2 separate regions of the Homo sapiens genome follow, and region 2 is linked to region 1. Evidence: fine-mapped expression QTL. A gene starts in region 1. The other region holds a variant in brackets. All regions are shown on one strand. Distances are from middle to middle.

Evidence for each region. PIP is the estimated chance that this variant, and not a neighbour inherited with it, causes the effect. A credible set is the group of variants that fine-mapping cannot tell apart.
Region 2: its variant is the best candidate, but not a certain one, in a credible set for the expression of SLC25A35 in visceral fat (GTEx, PIP 0.68).

The regions. Positions count from the first base shown.
Region 1 is chr17:8,290,076-8,300,223 of GRCh38, forward strand. SLC25A35 (solute carrier family 25 member 35) reads right to left here and starts at 5,325. Exons shown (of 5, transcript NM_001320870.2): 1 at 4,358-5,325; 2 at 2,448-2,513; 3 at 1,258-1,410; 4 at 767-901; 5 at 1-603. The coding sequence starts at 4,732. The coding sequence ends at 430. RANGRF (RAN guanine nucleotide release factor) reads left to right here. Exons shown (of 5, transcript NM_016492.5): 5 at 1-12. RefSeq lists enhancers at 5,045-5,124, 5,145-5,194, 5,815-5,944.
Region 2 is chr17:8,312,340-8,322,068 of GRCh38, forward strand. It overlaps ARHGEF15 (Rho guanine nucleotide exchange factor 15), which reads left to right. Exons shown (of 16, transcript NM_173728.4): 2 at 1-301; 3 at 583-915; 4 at 1,162-1,216; 5 at 2,567-2,625; 6 at 2,727-2,938; 7 at 3,075-3,235; 8 at 3,416-3,568; 9 at 3,680-3,809; 10 at 6,048-6,122; 11 at 6,231-6,323; 12 at 6,411-6,571; 13 at 6,668-6,820; 14 at 6,973-7,055; 15 at 7,160-7,264; 1 more. The coding sequence ends at 8,654. Among named protein-coding and RNA genes, the nearest start is that of ARHGEF15, 7.0 kb to the left of the region's middle. RefSeq lists an enhancer at 770-1,271. The variant G/C (reference allele first, on the strand shown) is at 4,775.

The DNA of each region.
Region 1 (10,148 bases):
CTTTATAATCAATATAATCTCTGTGCCTTTGAATCTAACAGGACACCTGGGTCCCAGACGCCTGGGAATTGGGTCTCTCGATTCCCTTTGGTTTTGGAGGGAGGAGTTTAAAACTGTGCATGGGAGCAGGAGGGACTCAAGGGTGGCAGTGGTGAGTGGGAGGAAATACACTTTGGGATGACTCGTTCAGCCCTGAGAGAGGGGTGTGAGTTACCCAGGGAATGGGTAGGGAAGGTTTAAAGCAACACCCAAGGAAAGAAGGGAAACTCATCTCTTGTAGTGATTCAACCCTGAGAACAGATGGGGAGTGGGGTTGGCTGTCCCCCATGGATGGATGAAAGGTCACCTAATCAGTAGTCACCAGGACATAGTGGTGGAGGCACAAGTGGCCAAGGAGTGCTCATTTGGTGGAGACTGGGAAAGCGGCTGTTATTTAGTGTCTGTGTAGTAGAGGGAGCGCAGCTGGTCCCAGAAGAAGAGGGAGAGGATGGTGTGGGGGCCGAGGCGGAAGTAGGAGGCACCTATACCCTTGTACATGCCAAAAATGCCCTCGGTCCGAGCTGTCTGCAGCAGAGCGTCCAGTATCCCCCGGTACATGAGGCCCTGAGAGTGTGTCAGAGAGGGAGGGAGAGCACAGAGAAGGAGTTTGTCAGAGCCCACCAGGGGCAGCACCTCTACAGGCTGCATTTCAGGCTATCCCACCTGCACCCGCAATCTGCCTTCCCCATCCCCTGCTTCCCGCCTGCATCCCAGAGCACTTCCTTACCTTGCCCTGTGCATCTGTGGGCTGGTTGTAGAGCCTTGTGCAGGCCACATCAAAGGGTGCCATGGCCAAGACAACTGCAATGCCACTCATCATGGCAGCCACCAGCGCCAACTTCCAGCTCTGGGGAGGAAAGATCTAAGGGGGTAGAGAGGAAGAGCGTTGTCAACCAGCCAACTATTACACCCCAAGGACAGGACAGTCCCTGCCCTGGGGACACAGATGCTGGTAACTGGGGGAGCTTCCACTGCACCAGTTATAACAGTGCAAAAACAGTGAGAAGGAGGAAGGCCAGGGTACCCTGAAGGCTCAGGTACCCCTTCTGGGAGGAAGTGACAAGAGAACTGTGGGAAGGGTCTAAAGAGTTGACCTCCAAGCCCTCCTGCCACTCCCTCACCTGTGAATGTTGGGCACCATCCCCTCCAGGGCCTAGTGCAGCTTGCCCTCCCCTTCCCCCCTTCCCGAAACAGACCCACCCATTTCCCAGGCAGTACCTCCCACTGGCTCAGGAGGTCCTTGGTGGATGAGAAGGTGCACAGCTGGGTGGAGGAACCGACGATAACTCGGGGCAGGCCGCCCAGAGCCCCACGCCATAACCCCACCAGACCATGTTTCTGGCCAATCTCGGTTAGCGCCTGAAACATGCCCTAGTGTGGGGAAGACCGGGGGTGGGGTTCAGACAGCCCAGCATCAGGGGCTGCCATCCTAACACTGCCAAGGATGGGTCCTTAATAGGAATCTCTTGTCCAGACAACCAGTTCAATGTGGGCTTAGAGCCAGAATGTGGGCCCTTGGTTGTCTAGCCACCCCATTGTTCCTTCCCTGGGCACCCAAGAACTGGGGCGGGATGTATGCAAGTGAGGCCATTCACTGGTCAGGAGAAACAGGGGCAGAAAATTAGAGGAACTGGAGTACATATTGGAAAGAGGCATCAGGCACGGTGGCTCACGCCTGTAATCCTAGCACTTTGGGAGGCCCAGGCGGGTGGATCACCTGAGGTCAGGAGTTTGAGACCAGCTTGGCCAACATGGTGAAACCCCATCTCTATTAAAAATACAAAAATTGCCGGGTGCAGTGGCTCATGCCTGTAATCCCAGCACTTTGGGAGGCCGAGGCGGGCGGATCACAAGTTCAGGAGTTCGAGACCAGCCTGACCAACATGGTGAAACCCCATCTCTACTAAAATTACAAAAATTAGCTGGACGTGGTGGCGCATGGCTGTAATCCCAGCTACTCAAGAGGTTGCAGCAGGAGAATCACTTGAACCCGGGAGGTGGAGGTTGCAGTGAGCCAAGACTGCGCCACTGCACTCCAGCCTGGGCAACAGAGCAAGACTCTGTCTCAACAAAACAAAACAAAACAAAAAAAATTTAGCTGGGTGTGGTGGTGCACGCCTGTAGTCCCAAGCTACTCGGGAGGCTGAGGCAGGAGAATCACTTGAACCCGGGAAGCGGAGGTTGCAGTGAGCCGAGATCGTGCCAATGCACTTCAGCCTGGGCAACAGAGCGAGACTCCATCTAAAAAAAGAGTAAAGAGGGTCTGGGTAGACTCCAGGGGCAAAATGGGACAGAACCGATGGGTTGAGCAGAGCAGTGGCTGGGATTGGATCTGTTGGGTGCAGGCAGAAAGCTAGGGGAAAAGAGAAAGGATGGTCAGGGACTTTGGCAGACTTGGGAACCCTCACCTGATGCTTATACTGGTGCCCTACAGCAATTTCTGAGGCTGCCTGTGCCTGCAGGTGTGTCTTCACCTGGGAACAAGAGAATATCATAGCCTGTGCCCCAGTGGCCATCCTCCTACCTGAGAACCAAATGTCTCACCCCCTCACACTTCCTCTAGGGTGTTCAGCAATGAATAGCCTCTTACTCTGATTATTGTTCTTCCTACTTAACAAACTGGTTAACAAAAAGACTCTGTCTCTAGGCTCCAGCCCCAGGGGGGTGGATCTCCCAGCACTGCAAGACACCCCAACCCCTTCATATCCTCTTTCCCTTGGGGCTAGCAGTCGGGGGTGGAGTGGTTGGAGAATGGCAATATTTCCTAAGGCTGTTCATGTTAGGCAAGACCTGGTGTCCCGCCTCTCATGCTAGCTCCCATTCCCAGACTGGATCTCCAGCCACCACTTCTATCAGGCTCCCCATCAGACTCTGGGCAAAACTTGCTCTCTAGCCCCCAACCCCCACAGAGGTATCGAGCTGACTTTGGGGAGACCACTGTCCCTGAAACTCACACCTTGAAATGAGACCAGACTGCCTCTGCTACAGGACATACTACTTCCCCGTCTCTTTTGCTCTTGGGAGCACTAAGCAGGGCCTAGTCCTAGCAATAAACAGCTGTGTGACCTTGAGTGGGTCACTTCCCCTTTCTGGGCCTCAGGCTCTTGACCCTTCACCTATACCAGATAACTCAAAGGGGCAGATGTTGAGATTGTTAATTCTGTGATGCCCAGGGCCTTCCTGATCCCTAGACTCTCTGACGTATGTTAAATTCCTTATCCTCCCCTTCACAAATCCAACCTCAATATCAACACATAATAATAAAAACAAATGCTACCAAATGCTTACTGTCTGCCAGGATTCGCACTAATGCTTTCATGTCTACCGCATTTGTCTCCCTCGATCCTCCCAATAATCACACAGAAAGGGCACTATAATTATCACCATTTTACAGATGTGGCAACTGAAGCTCAACAACTAGTAATTTTCTTTCTTTTCTTTTTTTTTTTTTTTTTGAGACGGAGTCTCTCTCTCTGGCCCAGGCTGGAGTGCAGTGGCCGGATCTCAGCTCACTGCAAGCTCCGCCTCCTGGGTTTAGGCCATTCTCCTGCCTCAGCCTCCGGAGTAGCTGGGACTACAGGCGCCCACCACCACGCCCGGCTAATTTTTTGTATTTTTAGTAGAGACGGGGTTTCACCGTGTTAGCCAGGATGGTCTCCATCTCCTGACCTCGTGATCCGCCCGCCTCGGCCTCCCAAAGTGCTGGGATTACTGGCGTGAGCCACCGCGCCCGGCCAACAACTAGTAATTTTCAAAGCCAGGATTTTAGTTCCAGAAAGTCTGATTCCAAAGCCCATAATCTTTTTTTTTTTTTTTTGTGAGACGTAGCCTTGCTCTGTGGCCCAGGCTGGAGTGCAGTGACCGGATCTCGGCTCACTGCAAGCTCCGCCTCCCGGGTTCATGCCATTCTCCTGCCTCAGCCTCCCGAGTAGCTGGGACTACAGGCGCCCACCACCGCACCCGGCTAATTTTTTGTATTTTTAGTAGAGACGGGGTTTCACTGTGTTAGCCAGGATGGTCTCCATCTCCTGACCTCGTGATCCGCCCGCCTTGGCCTCCCAAAGTGCTGGGATTACAGGTGTGAACCACTGCACCCGGCCCCAAAGCCCATAATCTTAATCAATACATTCAATCGTGTCCATCAGATGGGTGTGTATAGGGCAGATCAGAAGACTCCGAAGCCTACCAGCACTTTCCTGATGCCTTTCCCTGCTTGCAGTGGGGCAGCACTCTGCCACCTATGCCCTTGGGAAAGAACAGCTCCTATCCTACAACGAGGATCTGCCCTGAAGGTCCCAGGCAAGAGCCCTCTTCTTACCATGTAGATGGGGCTCCCCAAGTAGGCTCCCATGACCCCAGCCATGGCCCCAGCTGCTGCGCTGCGGGCAGGACTGTGGGTGCCTTCGGCTGTGTGCAGGTAGCCCCCAGCCTCAGCCAGCCCATAGGTGCCCAGTCGGATGCCATTCATCAGGAACTGGTACAAGAGGGCGGGGGCCAGGCCTTTCTGCAGGGCAGCAAGGCCATCCACCTTGCCGATGGTGATGAAGGCATGGAAGACATTTCGGTAGTGCCGCTGGTATGTGCCAGGGGCCTGCAGTTCTCCTTGCAACTGCATCCTGGTCTTCACCACCTCCAGGGGATTGGTGAATACACAGGCCCCGCAGGCTGCCAGGCCACTCATCAAGAAGTCCATGGTGGGATAGCTGTAGCAGGAACTGACCCAAGAGTAAGAAAGTAAAAATGGGTGTCAGAAAGCGGGGTTGGAAGACAGGGGGAAGGCCTGTTTCAGCAGTACAGGTTGCAGAAGATAAGAATTTAGATTTGCAGTCAAGGGTGTCAGGGTCAAATGTCAAGTGGTCAAACGTCAGCTGGAATTTGGGAGTCAAGAGCTGGCAAGCAGGGAAGAGATAGAAATCTAGGAGATTCTGGTGAGAAGCTTAAGGCAGGACCCTCTGAGGTCAAGGAGGGGCAAAAGACAGAAGGTTGCAGGTGGGATGGCTCAGGATGGCGGGCGACGGGAGCACGGGAGTAGAGGAGGGAATCGCGGGGTTGGGAGATGGAAGCCAGGGAGGCAGGAAGAAGAAAGCCAGCAAGTGAGAGAAGAAAAGGATCCGGGAGAAGAGCCGGTGATTTCCTCGAGCCAGCAACGAGATCTCGATCCGAGAAAGAAGTCAGGACTCTGGCCAGGAATGAGCGTCCCTGAGCGTCCCCAGGCAGCCACCGGAGCTCGCAGTAGCTTCAACCCCGGGTAGCCTGCGGAGGCCGGGCCGCCACACTCCTGCCACTGGAGCGCGGGGCCAATGGGGAGCCTTCAAGAGCCACAACCGAGGCCCTCAGCCAATCAGCGCCGAGCCGGCTCCGCGGCCAAAGGGAGGAGCTCTCGGCGCTCCTGTCCCCGGAATCACCCGGAGGCGGTTGGAATTAACTGTCCAGGCTCCGCCACCAGCGCTCGGCCGCCGACTCCGGCTCCGGAAGGGAGGCCCGGGACGCGGCGGTTTTGTTATTGGCAGGGAAGAGACCTGGGTTCCCGATCGAACACAGAGGCCGAGCGCAGCAGTCCCCCACTGGGGTGCTGGGACCGCCCCTCGGGTGGGCGGACGGCTTTAGCTTCCTACCCCGGGTTGTGACCGGGTGGGGTCACATAAGTTCAGGTCCACGCCCTGCTCGGTGCCGGCGCCAGGAGAGCCAGGAAGACGCGGCCCGGCTTGCGGGGGGTAGAGGGACACACTTGCGCTGCGGGACCAGTCTCCTGAGGCTGCACGGGTTGGTGCTTGGTTAATTAAATCCTTAGTCCTTAGGCTCTTTATTTTTATTTTTTATTTTTTTTGAGACGGAGTCTCGCTCTGTCGCCCAGGCTGGAGTGCAGTGGCGCGATCTTAGCTCACTGAGAGCTCCGCCTCCCGGGTTCACGCCATTCTCCTGCCTCAGCCTCCCAAGTAGCTGGGACTACAGGTGCCCGCCACCACGCCCGGCTTATTTTTTGTATTTTTAATAGAGACCACCGTGTTAGCCAGGATGGTCTCGATCTCCTGACCTCGTGATCCACCCGCCTCAGCCTCCCAAAGTGCTGGGATTACAGGCGTGAGCCACCATCCCTGGCCTGGAGTTCTTTCATATGAGATATTTGTCTCTACTCCTCCATTATTTATTCAACCATTTATTTAATCAGTATGGACTCATGGACATTTATACTTTGGGTTATAATCCAATATACTTCATATTTATTTTCTAGCTAATTTCGTTCTAGCTTTGGCCTTTGAGAGCTGTTTCCGTTGGCTCCTGTGTCTCTTTAGCATACCCCCATCCATTTTTTTTTGCACACAAAAGTTTTTAGTTTATAAATCTTGTGAAAAATCCACAGTGGCCACAGATGTTACTGTAGCATCTTTACTCCTTTGGCTTTTTGCCACACCAACACTGTCCTTTGCAGTCCCCCTTTCTTCATTCTGGTCTTGTGTTCCTTTCATTGCTTTCTTGAGTTCTTTTCTTCTCATCCAGGCCATGTCTTGGAAGTCAGCATTTGGGTTTATTTTTCTTTGCATAATCCAGTGAATCATAAATCATGCCAAAGCCAGTTGTCTTGCCACCACCAAAATGAGTTCTGAATCCAAATACAAAGATGAGGCCAGGCGTGGTGGCTCACGCCTGTAATCCCAGCACTTTGGGAGGCAGAGGCAGGCAGATCACATGAGGTCAGGAGTTTGAGACCAGCCTGGCCAACATTGTGAAACCCTGTCTCTGCTAAAACTACAAAAATTAGCCGGGTGTGGTGGCAGGCACCTGTAATCCCAGCTACTCGGGAGGCTGAGGCAGGAGAATCACTTGAACCCAGGAGGCAGAGGTTGCAGTGAGCCGAGATTGCGCCACTACACTCCAGCCTGGGTGACAGACGGAGACTCCATCTCATAAAGACAAACAAAAACAAACAAAGATGATGACATCTAGTGTAGTCTCATACATTTTGGCTAGTTTTTCCTGAATTTCTGTCTTAGGTACTGTTGTCTTCCCAGGGTGAAGGACCTCAATAACCATTTGTTCCTCCTGAAGTATGTAGTCAGTTGATCATGAACTTCCTAGTTCAGATAGTTACTAAGTCATTCATGATGGCGGTCAATCCTCAACCAGGGAGAAAAATAAGAGTCCCATCAGTGTTGTTGTCATCATTGGTATTTTAATTAAAACCTTGTTTTTATTTAGTGTCACCTTACTTTCTGGTACTATAAAATGCTCCAGGCTCATTTTGTGTATTTCCTGCCACAGTCCTGCAATCAGCCATTTCTCCAAGGACCCCTATTTTCTTTTATTGGCAAATGGTTTTAGAATCCAAGATCTGGGCCCTAGGTGTGCTTGTTGCTTTTGAGGTATCATTGCTTCTGGACCCTCACATCTGAGAAAGCAAGGAAATATATGTGTGTATACTAACCCACGTATATACACAAACATGTATTTCCATATATAACCATCCATATCTATATTAAGCTAAGCATGAATTCATACTGATGTCTCCAACTTTAATCCATTACTACATGGATCATTCTAGCCACCTCCCTTGTTTATCTAAACTCCCACCCCAACTGTGAGAAACCTGGCTTCCATAATTTGCCATCTATTTACTTAATTGTTTATTCCAGGACACGTGTATAGGAGTATCAGAATTGTTTTGTTTTTCTTTTTAAATTCTTTATTATTATTATTATTATTATTATTTGAGACGGAGTTTTGTTCTTGTTGCCCATGCTAGAGTGCAATGTTGCAATCTCAGTTCACTGCAACCTTCACCTCTCAGGTTCAAGCGATTCTCCTGCCTCAGCCTCCTGAGTAGCTGGAATTACAAGCACGAACCACCACACCTGGCTAATTTGTTTTTGTATTTTTAGTAGAAACAGGGTTTCACCATGTTAGCCAGGCTGGTCTCGAACTCCTGACCTCAGGTGATCCTCCCGCCTTGGCCTCCCAAAGTGCTGGTATTACAGGCATGAGCCACTGCACCCGGCCTAAACTTTTTCTTCTTTCTTTCTTTTTTTTTTTGAGATGGAGTTTTGCTGTTGTCGCCCAGGCTGGAGCACAATGGCATGATCTTGGCATACTGCAACCTCTGCCTCCCGGGTTCAAGCGATTCTCCTGCTTCAGCCTCCCAAGTAGCTGAGATTACAGGCATGCGCCACCACGCCTGGCTAATTTTGTATTTTTAGTAGAAACAGGGTTTCTCCATGTTGGTCAGGCTGGTTTGCGAACTCCCGACCTCAGGTGATCCACCTGCCTCGGCCTCCCAAAGTGCTAGGATTACAGGGGTGAGCCACCACACCCAGCCTAAAATTTTTCTTTATATGTGCCAGGCACAGTAGCTCATGCCTGTAATCCCAGCAGTTCGGGAGGCTGAGGCAGGTGGATCACCTGAGGTCAGGAGTTCAAGACGATCCTGGGCAGCATGGCAAAACCCCGTCTCTACTAAAAATACAGAAATTAGCTGGGCGTGGTGGCACGCACCTGTAGTCCCAGCTACTTGGGAGGCTGAGGCACGAGAATTACTTGAACCTGGGAGGCGGAGGTTGCTGTGAGCCAAGATCGCGTCGTTGCACTCCAGCCTAGGTTACAGAGCAAGATTCCGTTTCAATAAAATAAAATAAAATATTTCTTTATTTGTAATCATAATGTCTCAAAAGAGAATTGTTAACACATACCCCTGTGGAGAACAATCTTATAAACTAGGGTACAGTGCTTATGTGTAGTTCCATTTGCCTTTGATCTTACAGACTCGACTCATTTCCAAAATTACTCAGGTCAGCACCTTTCCCCCAGCTCCCTTCAGAAAAGTTATTTCATACATTAGTAGTATCATTAAATTCTTTTGCCACAATCTGCCTTCCATATTGGGTTCCCTGACCTCCTAATTTTTTTTTTAATTAAAAATATCAGGAGTCAAAAAAAATAAAATAAAAAAAATATCAGGAGTCTGGGCGTGGTGGCTCACACCTGTAATCCCAGCACTTTGGGAGGCCAAGGCAGGCAGATCACCTGAGGTTGGGGGTGTGAAACCAGCCTGACCAACATGGGGAAACTTCTTCTCTACTAAAAAAAATACAAAATTAGCTGGGGGTGGTGGCGCATGCCTGTAATCCCAGCTACTCGGGAGGCTGAGGCAGGAGAATCACTTGAACCCCGGAAGTGGAGGTTGCAGTGAGCAGGAGATTGCGCCATTGCACTCCAGCCTGGGCAACAAGAGTTAAACTCTGTCTCAAAATTACATCTATCTATCTATCTATCTATCTATCTATCTATCTATCTATCTATCTATATATATATATATCAGGGCTGGGCATGGTGGCTCAGGCCTGTAATCCCAGCACTTTGGGAGGCTGAGGTCAGCGGATCATGAGGTCGAGAGATCGAGACCATCCTGCCCAACATGGTGAACCCTCATCTCTACTAAAAAAAAAAAATACAAAAATTGGCCGGGTGTGGTGGCTCATGCCTGTAATCTCAGCACTTTGGGAGGCCGAGGAGGGCGGATCACCAGGTCATGAGGTCGAGACCATCCTGGCTAACACAATGAAACCCCATCTCTACTAAAAATACAAAAAATTAGCCAGGCGTGGTGGCAGGTGCCTGTAGTCCCAGCTACTAGGGAGGCTGAGGCAGGAAAATGGCATGAACCCAGGAGGCGGAGCTTGCAGTGAGCCGAGATCGCGTCACTGCACTCCAGCCTGGGCGACAGAGTGAGACTCTGTCTCAAAAAAAAAAAAAAAAATTGAGGCCGGATGCAGTGGCTCATGCTTGTAATCCCAGCACTTTGGGAGGCCGAGGTGGGTGGATCACCTAAGGCCAGGAGTTCGAGACCAGCCTGGTCAACCTGGTGAAACCCCATTTCTACTAAAAATACAAAAATTAGCTGGGTGTGGTGGCGGGCACCTGTAATCCCAGCTACTCGGGAGGCTGAAGCAGGAGAATCACTTCAACCCAGGAGGCGGAGTTTGCAGCGAGCCGAGATCGCACCACTGCACTCCAGCTGGGCAACAGAGCTAGACTCCGTCTCAAAAAACAACAACAACAACAACAACAAAACAAACAAACAAAAAAAACCCAAAAATGTATAATTAGGCCCAAGGTCA
Region 2 (9,729 bases), 22 kb after region 1:
AGTCCAGTGTCCCGGCGCTCCGCCTCCCCAGAACCTGCTCCCCGGTCTCCAGTCCCCCCACCCAAGCCGTCTGGGTCACCCTGCACGCCTCTGCTCCCCATGGCTGGAGTCCTGGCTCAGAATGGCTCTGCCTCAGCTCCTGGCACTGTGCGGAGGCTGGCTGGCAGGTTTGAAGGGGGTGCTGAAGGCCGGGCTCAGGATGCAGATGCCCCGGAGCCAGGTCTCCAAGCGAGAGCAGATGTGAATGGGGAGAGAGAAGCTCCCCTCACCGGGAGTGGGTCCCAGGAGAACGGTGCTCCAGGTGAGTGTGGCGGGTGGGGGGCGCTGGGTGACCTCAATCCACCCATCTTCTCCGTTTTCAGTGCTAACAACTTTCAGGGGCTACCTTTTCAAAAATGGAGTTAATGTTTGGGATATCTGGTTTCTGTATGTCGGGATTTGAAGGGAGTCAGGGTGGAGGAGATCTATAGATGCCTGGACCTTGATATTGCAGTTGCTGGGCAGGTTAAAGATGGAGATGGTCTGGGCGGGGGTGGAGCTGGGCCCCAAGGGCTTTCTCCTTAGGCTACCTGTCTCCCACAGATGCTGGCCTGGCCTGCCCTCCCTGCTGCCCCTGTGTCTGCCACACCACCCGGCCTGGCCTGGAGCTCAGATGGGTGCCTGTGGGGGGCTATGAGGAGGTCCCCAGGGTCCCCCGTCGGGCCTCCCCGCTGCGGACCTCTCGCTCCCGCCCCCACCCTCCAAGCATCGGTCACCCTGCCGTTGTCCTCACATCCTACCGCTCCACTGCTGAGCGCAAACTCCTGCCACTCCTCAAGCCTCCCAAACCAACTCGTGTCAGGCAGGATGCCACCATTTTCGGGGACCCCCCACAGCCAGATCTTGATCTGCTTTCTGAAGATGGAATCCAAACAGGTGCAGGGCCTGGGGGAGTGGACCTCTGGGCTGTGAGGGGACAGGAGAGAGGCAGGGGGGAACTAAAGCCCAGCAAACTACAATCCCCAACAGGCACTGGGCTCTTTGCTTCCCCACCAGCTGCTGCTCTGGTGCTGAAGAGAGTTGCAGTTTTTATAGTAACCATCCCTGCTGGGGCTGGAGTCGGGAGTCCTGGCTGGGGATCCTGGAGTTTTTTTTTCTCTTCACTCTGGCTTCTCTCTCCAGGGGACAGTCCTGATGAAGCTCCTCAGAATACTCCTCCAGCAACTGTGGAGGGGAGGTACTGAACACCCCCACCCCTACTCCCTGGTTCTCTCCCCACCATGCTTCTACCTGAGGGCAGACTAACCTTCAGCTCCAGCTAAATCCCACCTCCACAAAGGTGAGGGGACAAGGGCCAGGGCTCTAGAGATAAGCAGCCCTTGTTTCGAATCCCAGCTCTGGCCCTTATCAATTCTGTGATCTTATAGAAGGCCGGGCACGGTGGCTTACATCTGTAATCCCAGCACTCTGGGAGGCCGCGGCAGAAGGATCACCTGAAGTCAGGAGTTCAAGATCAGCCTGGCTAACGTGGTGAAACCCTGTCTCTACTAAAAATACAAAAATTAGCCGGGCATGGTGACGGGTGCCTGTAATCCCAGCTACTCGGGAGGCTGAGGCAGGAGAATGGCTTGGACCCAGGGAGATGGAGGTTGCAGGGAGCCAAGAGCGTGCCACTGCACTCCAGCCTGGTCGACAAGAGAGAAACTCCATCTCAAAAAAAAAAAAAATCTGTAGCCTTCCTGGGTCTCAGTGTCCTCATCTGTGAAATGGGGCTAAGCATAGGAACCACCTCATGGAATCGTGGGGATATGATATTGTGAAGAGCCGGGTCCAGAGTAAGTGAGTGCACCATTTTAACTCCCTTCCCTCACCTTGAGCTTCTATTGCAATTATTGTCCGAAAATCTATTTGGCAATCATGACCATCTCTTCTATGCTATCCAGGATTGTTAATTATCTTAGATTCACCATTGTTATCAGAAGTTATCTGTGTCCATTCATTTATTCAACAAACATTTACTAGTGTGGTTTTTAGCTTGGGCGAATGGGGGTGTGGTGGTGCTGATGACCACAGCAGGGGAGATAAGGGGCTGCAGGTGCTGGTGGGAGGTGTGAGAGTTTGCAGTCCATCACGTTGAGCTTCCTTGACACACAAATAGGGCGTTCCAGACAATGGTTGCTACGTGAGACGGCTGACAAGGAGACTCAGAAATCTCTGGTCTGCAATAGTTGACATAAGAATGGGGCCCACTTAGTTCAGGGGCTCCTCTCTAAAAGGCACATAAAAAGATCTGGAATTTGGGCCGGGCAAAGTAGGTTACGCCTGTAATCCTGACACTTTGTGAGGCCAAGGTGGCAGGATTGCTTGAGACCAGGAGTTTAAGACCAGCCTGGGCAACATAACGAGACCTTGCCTTTCCCCTTCAAAAAAAAAAAAAAAAAAAAAGCCTGAGGTTTGATTTGGGGAGCCGTCAGGGTCCCTACATCCAACCTGCACATGGGTTGCCCTGTCCAGCATGAGAACAAGCACCCCTACGGTGGGCAGCAGTGGTGGCCCTGGGGACTTCCTTCCCTTTCTTTCTCCACAGGGAAGAGGAGGGGCTAGAGGTGCTGAAGGAGCAGAATTGGGAGCTGCCCCTGCAGGATGGTGAGGGCCTCTGGACCTGAGGGTCCCTGCTGTGACCATCAAGCAGTGGGGAAGGGTTTGGGAGCCCTGGGCTTCCCTGAAGTGCTATGTTTGCCCTCTAGAACCTCTGTACCAGACCTACCGAGCAGCCGTGCTGTCAGAGGAGCTGTGGGGGGTGGGTGAGGATGGGAGTCCTTCTCCAGCAAATGCTGGAGATGCACCCACCTTCCCACGACCCCCTGGACCTCGCAACACCCTGTGGCAGGAGCTTCCGGCTGTGCAAGCCAGCGGTCTTCTGGATACCCTCAGCCCCCAGGAGAGGCGCATGCAGGAGGTGGGAGCTGGAGGTGGGAGATGGGAGGGGGGTGCTGGGGTTGGGCTGCATGGGTCAGGCATAGGGGAGGAGGGCCCAGGGTCCTAGCTTCCCACGGTGAACTGGGCTTCCCACGACTGCCTGCTTTTCTTTCTAGAGTCTTTTCGAGGTGGTGACGTCCGAGGCTTCCTACCTGCGCTCCCTGCGGCTGCTGACCGACACCTTCGTGCTGAGCCAGGCACTCCGGGACACGCTCACCCCCCGTGATCACCACACACTCTTCTCCAATGTGCAGCGAGTCCAGGGAGTCAGCGAGCGGTCAGTGGCTTTCCGTCCTTCCAGGGAACCTGCCCTTAGGCTGCTGGGCACGCCCTTTCCTCTCTCCCGGGCCCAGGTCCTTCCTTCTACGGACCCAGTTAGTTCCCAAACCTTCTCTCAAGAACCCGGGAGACCTGGCTCTCTGCCCCGCCCCATTGCTTGCTTCCCCAATTCCTTCAGGTTTCTAGCAACGCTCCTGTCCCGTGTGCGCTCTTCCCCCCACATCAGCGACTTGTGTGATGTGGTGCATGCCCACGCTGTGGGGCCTTTCTCGGTGTATGTGGATTATGTGCGGAACCAGCAGTATCAGGAGGAGACCTACAGCCGCCTCATGTGAGTGTCCCAGGGGTGGGGAGGAAGCTGGGGAGAGGGATGGGACCGAGGCCACAGCAGGTTGGGGCACCAGGGCCTCCAGGCAGCCGCTAGCCATGCCTGCTTCTGCAGGGACACCAACGTGCGCTTCTCCGCCGAGCTGCGCCGGCTGCAGAGCCTCCCTAAGTGTGAGCGGCTCCCGCTGCCGTCCTTCCTGCTACTGCCCTTCCAGCGCATCACCCGGCTGCGCATGCTGCTGCAGGTACCTGTCCCAGCTGCGGCCGTTTCTGCCCCACCAACCCCATCGGAGAACTCTCCCGAGGGCTTCTTGGCCCTCCAGCTATCACCATGCACTACTCCACCTTAAACATAAAATCCCCCAAATCATAACTCCGAATCTGGGTCTCTCAGCCTAGGACTCACCAAGTCCTACCTTAGGGGCCCTGTGCTCTTCCCCTTACCTGGACTGCCTCTAGGTCCAGGTGCAGGGAAAGGCCCTCTGGCTGGAGACATGAGTTCCACACCTAGCTCTGCCACTGACTCTCTGAGTGACCTTAGGCAAGTCCCTTCTGCTCGCTGGGTCTCAGGGGGAGTGTGTGAGCGGTTTTTGAGGTTGTCTCTGGCTATATTCTTCTACCCACATGCCTTCCCAGCTGGGGTGGTATCACCCCCAAGGGGGCAAAAATTGGTTCTTTGGGGGTGAAAATAATCTTAGTTATTCCAACAGTTGTACTCCATTAAGCTTTAGTGCATAAACAGAGTTCCAGTAGATCTGTAGAATTAAACTTTCATGGTGAGGGAGATGTTTAGGGAAAATTATCTTAAAAAGGCAACTTAGTGGGGTGATACGGGGGAAAAAAAAGTTTGAGATTTGAGACACTTTCTTCCTCCTCCTCCTCCTCTTCTCCATCTCCTTCTTCGAGACGGAGTCTCACTCCCAGGCTGGAGTACAGTGGCGCAATATCGGCTCACTGCAACCTCTGCCTCCCGGGTTCAAGCGATTCTCCTGCCTCAGCCTCCTGAGTAGCTGGGATTACAGGTGTGGACTACCATGCCTGGCTAATTTTTGTATTATTAGTAGAGATGGGGTTTCACCATGTTGGCCAGGCTGCTATCGAACTCCTGACCTCATGTAGTCCACCTGCCTCAGTCACCCAAAGTGCTGGCATTACAGGCGTGAGCCACTGCACCCGGCCTAAGACACTCTCTTCTATAGCAAAGCAGAGA[G/C]TCCTTTCTAACCAGGTCTCCCAATATGGGGATCTTTAGAGCACTGGCACGATCACGGCTCACTGCAGCCTCAAATTCCTGGGCTCAAGGGATCCTTGTGCCTCAGCCTCTAGAGTAGCTGGGACTACAATGCCACCATGCCCGGCTATTTATTAATTTTTATTTTTATAGAGACAGGGTCTCACTATGTTGGCCAGGCTGGTCTTGAACTCCCGGCCTCAAGCAATCCTCCTATCTCAGCTTCTCAAAGCTCTAGCATTATAGGTGTGAGCTACTGAGCCCAGTGAATGAGGGGATCTTTATGTGAAGAGTTCCCAACTAGATTATCAGTGTCTTTATGATCTTATTCAGCTTTATCTATCCCCATTGTAGACAACAAAATAATAATAATGATACTAATCAAAATAGCTCAACAGCTATTAAGCTTTCTAGGAATGGTTCTAAGTGCTATACACCTGTGTAACCTTACCTGCAACTATGTGAGGGTAGGAACTATTACTTGTCCTACTTTAGACATGAGAAAGCTAAGGCACAGGTCACATAACTTGCCTCAGGTCATACAGAAATAATTGATGGAGACAAAATTGTAATCTAAGCACTCTTAGCTACTCTGCTATATTGCCTGCACTAACAGTTTTGGTTAATAATTATTAAAATAATAGGAACCTTCGGGGCAGGCACGGTGGCTCATGCCTGTAATCCCAGCACTTTGGGAGGCCGAGGCGGGTGGATCATCTGAGGTCAGGAGTTCAAGACCAGCCTGGCCAACATGGTGAAACCCCGCTTCTACTAAAAATACAAAAAAATTAGTCGGGCGTGGTGGCACACGTCTGTAATCCCAGCTACTTGGGAGGCTGAGGCAGGAGAATCACTTGAACCCGGGAGGCAGAGGTTGCAGTGAGCCGAGATCGCACCCCTGCACTCCAGCCTGGGTGACAGAGCCAGACTCCGGAAGAAAAAAAAATAAGAACCTTCTTTTCAACATTTAATATGTGCCAAGAACTATGCTAAGCACTTTACATATATTGCCTTCTTGAATCCTCAAAACAATGCTATTGATATGCTAGGTGGGTATTAGCCCCATTTTACAGATAGGGAAGCTGAGGCTCAGAGAGGTAACAGGACTTGCTCAGGGTTCTGCAGATGGTGAGTGATGAGGTCTGTCAGCCTTGTTGAAACTGGCTGAAACAGACAGGGTCCTCTGAGCTGTGGCCCCTCTGAATCCCAGGGCCACAGAGCAGGGGGCCCAGTCACCCTTCCTCCTTGTCCCCAGAATATCCTGCGCCAGACAGAAGAGGGGTCCAGCCGTCAGGAGAATGCCCAGAAGGCCCTGGGTGCTGTCAGCAAGGTGGGCAGTGGGGAAGCTGAAGCAGGGGGAGGTGACAAGGTGGTAGAGAGAAATGGTAGGGAGCAGGGGGCTGGCCGCTGGGGTGGTGACACAGCTCCCCTTACCTAGATCATCGAGCGTTGCAGCGCTGAGGTGGGGCGCATGAAGCAGACTGAAGAGCTGATCCGGCTCACCCAAAGGCTGCGCTTCCACAAAGTCAAGGTACATCGCTGCCCAGGCTCCCCATCTTGCCCTGCCCCATGTTGCTGCTGCCACGCTAGAACCTCCTCTGCCTCCGCTTCCTCGCAGGCCCTGCCCCTGGTCTCCTGGTCACGGCGCCTGGAATTCCAGGGAGAGCTGACTGAGTTAGGGTGCCGGAGGGGGGGCGTGCTCTTTGCCTCGCGCCCCCGCTTCACCCCTCTTTGCCTGCTGCTCTTTAGCGACCTGCTGCTCATCACTCAGCCTAAGAGGTGAGTCCTAGGGAAGGAAGGAGCCCAGGCTGGAGTGGGCAGGAGGGGTCCAGCGGGACCCCTGCTGTCCTTCTGAACGACCTCATCCCTGGGCAGTGGGCAGCGGTTACAGGTTCTGGACTATGCCCATCGCTCCCTGGTCCAGGCCCAGCAGGTTCCGGATCCATCTGGACCCCCTACCTTCCGCCTCTCCCTTCTCAGCAACCACCAGGGCCGCCCCACCCACCGACTACTCCAAGCTTCTTCCCTGTGAGTTGTGTTTCCCTCAGAAAACAACCTTGGGACACTTATCTGACCTCTCAGACCTCCCCCACTTCCCCAGTCTCTCTCTTCTGTGGCTCCTGCCTCAGCCCCAGAGGATCTTTTGGGCCAACTGTGACACTTCCCAATATCCCCACCAGATCAGACATGCAGCGCTGGCTGGGAGCCTTCCCAACCCCAGGCCCCCTTCCCTGCTCCCCAGACACCATCTATGAGGACTGTGGTGAGTATCCCCCTAGAGGGGATGAGGGAAGAAAAAGCGAGTCTTAGAGGAATATGGGGGAGAAGCTAAACAGAATCACTTTAATGTCACCCACCCCCAACCAGACTGTTCCCAGGAACTGTGTTCAGAGTCGTCTGCACCTGCCAAGACTGAAGGACGGAGTCTGGAGTCCAGGGCTGCCCCCAAACACCTGCACAAGACCCCTGAAGGTGAGAAAGTCTTTCATTTATTTATTTTGTATTTATTATTATTATTTTTTGAGACAGAGTCTCATTCTGTCAGCCAGGCTAGAGTGCAGTGGTGTGAGCTCGGCTCACTGCAACCTCTGCCTCCTGGGTTCAAGGGATTCTCCTGCCTCAACCTCCCAAGTAGCTGAGATTACAGGTGCCCACCACCACGTCTGGCTAATTTTTGTATTTTTAGTAGAGATGGGGTTTCACCATGTTGGCCAGGCTGGTCTCGAACTAACCTCAGGTGATCCGTCCCCTTTCACCTCCCAAAGTGCTGGGATTACAGGCATGAGCCTCTGGTGCCAGGCCTTATTTCTATTCTTTTTTTTTTTTAATGGAGGTGGGGGGTCTCACTATGTTGCTCAGGCTGGTCTTGAACTCCCGAGCTCAAGTGATCCTCCTGCCTCAGGCTCCCAAAGTGCTGGGATTACAGGCGTGAGCCACTGCGCCTGGCCGTGTTTCATTTATTCATTCAATAAATATTTATTAAGCACCTACAAAGTGCCACTCGCTGTTCTAGGGACTGTGAATCAAATATATCACACTTCCTTCCTTGCTGGAGCTACGTTCTAGCAGAGGAGGCAGACGATAAAGAATGAGCAAAATAGATAAGTAAATTATAAAGTACATGTGAAGGTTATGAGTGTTATGGAAAAAAAAAAAAGTGAGCAGAGCAAAGAAGGTCAGGAGTTCCAGGGTTGGGCAGACTGAAATTTTCAATAGGGAGGCCGAGGTGGACCTCACTGAGAAGGCAACATGAAGCTTGATGGAGCTAATTTAGGCCCATGGTGTCTGGGGGAAGAGTGTCCCAGCTGGAGGCAGCAGGCAGTGCAAAGGCCCTGCGGCTGGTGTGTGACTGAGGAACTGTAAGGAGGCCAGTGTGACTAGCAGGAGAGAGAAAGGGGGAGAAGCAAATGAGGTCATAGAAGTGGCAGGGATGGGATCACGCAGGACCTGACAGGTCTCTGCAAGGACTCCACCTCTTACTCCAAGAGACATGAGCAGCCACTGCAGGGCTTGACGGAAGAGCAGCCCAGACTCTCTCCGAGCTGCTGTCACCTCCACTTCTGATGCCCTTTCTACCGATGCTCCAGGCTTGTCCATGAATTCCCACACCTACAATGACCCTGAAGGCCTGAGACCCCACGAGGCCCCCTTTGCCTCCTCACCTGCTCCCTGCCCCCACCTCATTGGAGCCTCTGTCTCTCTTCCCCCAGGTTGGCTGAAGGGGCTTCCTGGGGCCTTCCCTGCCCAGCTGGTGTGTGAAGTCACAGGGGAACACGAAAGGAGGAGGCACCTTCGCCAGAACCAGAGGCTTCTCGAGGCTGTTGGATCTTCTTCAGGCACCCCCAATGCCCCCCCACCCTAATGCAGGCTGAGGAGGGGGCACATGTTGGGAGACACCTACCAGTGTGGCACGGAGAGAACAAAGCCCATTCATCCATTGGATTCACTGTCAGTGGAGATACTACCTCTCGTGGCAACCATAGAGATCGAGCTTCAGGACAGAGCAGCCAATGAAAACGGCCGCCTGAACCCACAGCAATAAGAATGAATGAGGATGCCTTGAATGTGTGGCCAATGGAGACAGAGGCTTAGTGCAGAGCAGCCAATGGGTACTGAGCTGGCTGAGCCTATGGCCAATGAGTATTCCTGCTATGCTCAGGGCCAAGGAAGACAAATCTAGGTCATGGCAGTTGAAAAAGGGCCTCATTGGAGATAAAGTCGTAGGATAAAATTGGGAACAGGAATGAGCAGGAAGCCAATCAGCCAAAGAAAATGGTGATCTGGACCCAAGAGACCAGTAGTCACCCTGCTTGTTTCTGCAGCAATGACTGGTCCTGTCTTTTGAGTCTGGGAAATACTAGTTTCCATTCCTGGATGCTTCCTGTGCCCTCTCAAGCCAGTTCTTCTCTTCCAGAAGAATTCAGAGTATGTGTCTCAGAAAATCTGTGTGTGTACATGTGCATGTGTAGATATGTGTGTATATGTATCAGGAAAGGCATTCTGCTGACTGTGGTGTGTGTGTGGTGATTGTGCTCCTGACCCACAAATGACTGAGTGCTCCATTTCTTCCTTTACCCCCCATTTTTCCTATTATTCGCTCCAAGAAAGATGCTAAGTCTGAGCTCCAGAAGAGACTGTGCTGGGTGTGGCTTGGCACCCAGGGGATGAGAGCCCTGAGCTTTGGGTCTCTTGGAGGCTAGGGTTCTGTGGCAGTTGCAGGGCAATGTTATGGAGCAGCCAACGGCCTGGCAGAGGAGCCCAAGGGACTGAAGATGGCCAGTAGCTGGGTCCTGAGGCCCCTGAAGTCTGCAGACCCTTCTCCTTGCCCCAAACACTGGCCTCCATAATTCCTGCCTGCAGATCTCCCAACTTGAACTATAATCCACCAGCCAGCCTCAGCCTTGAGCTTTGGAACCACATTAGATCCTGCATCTGGG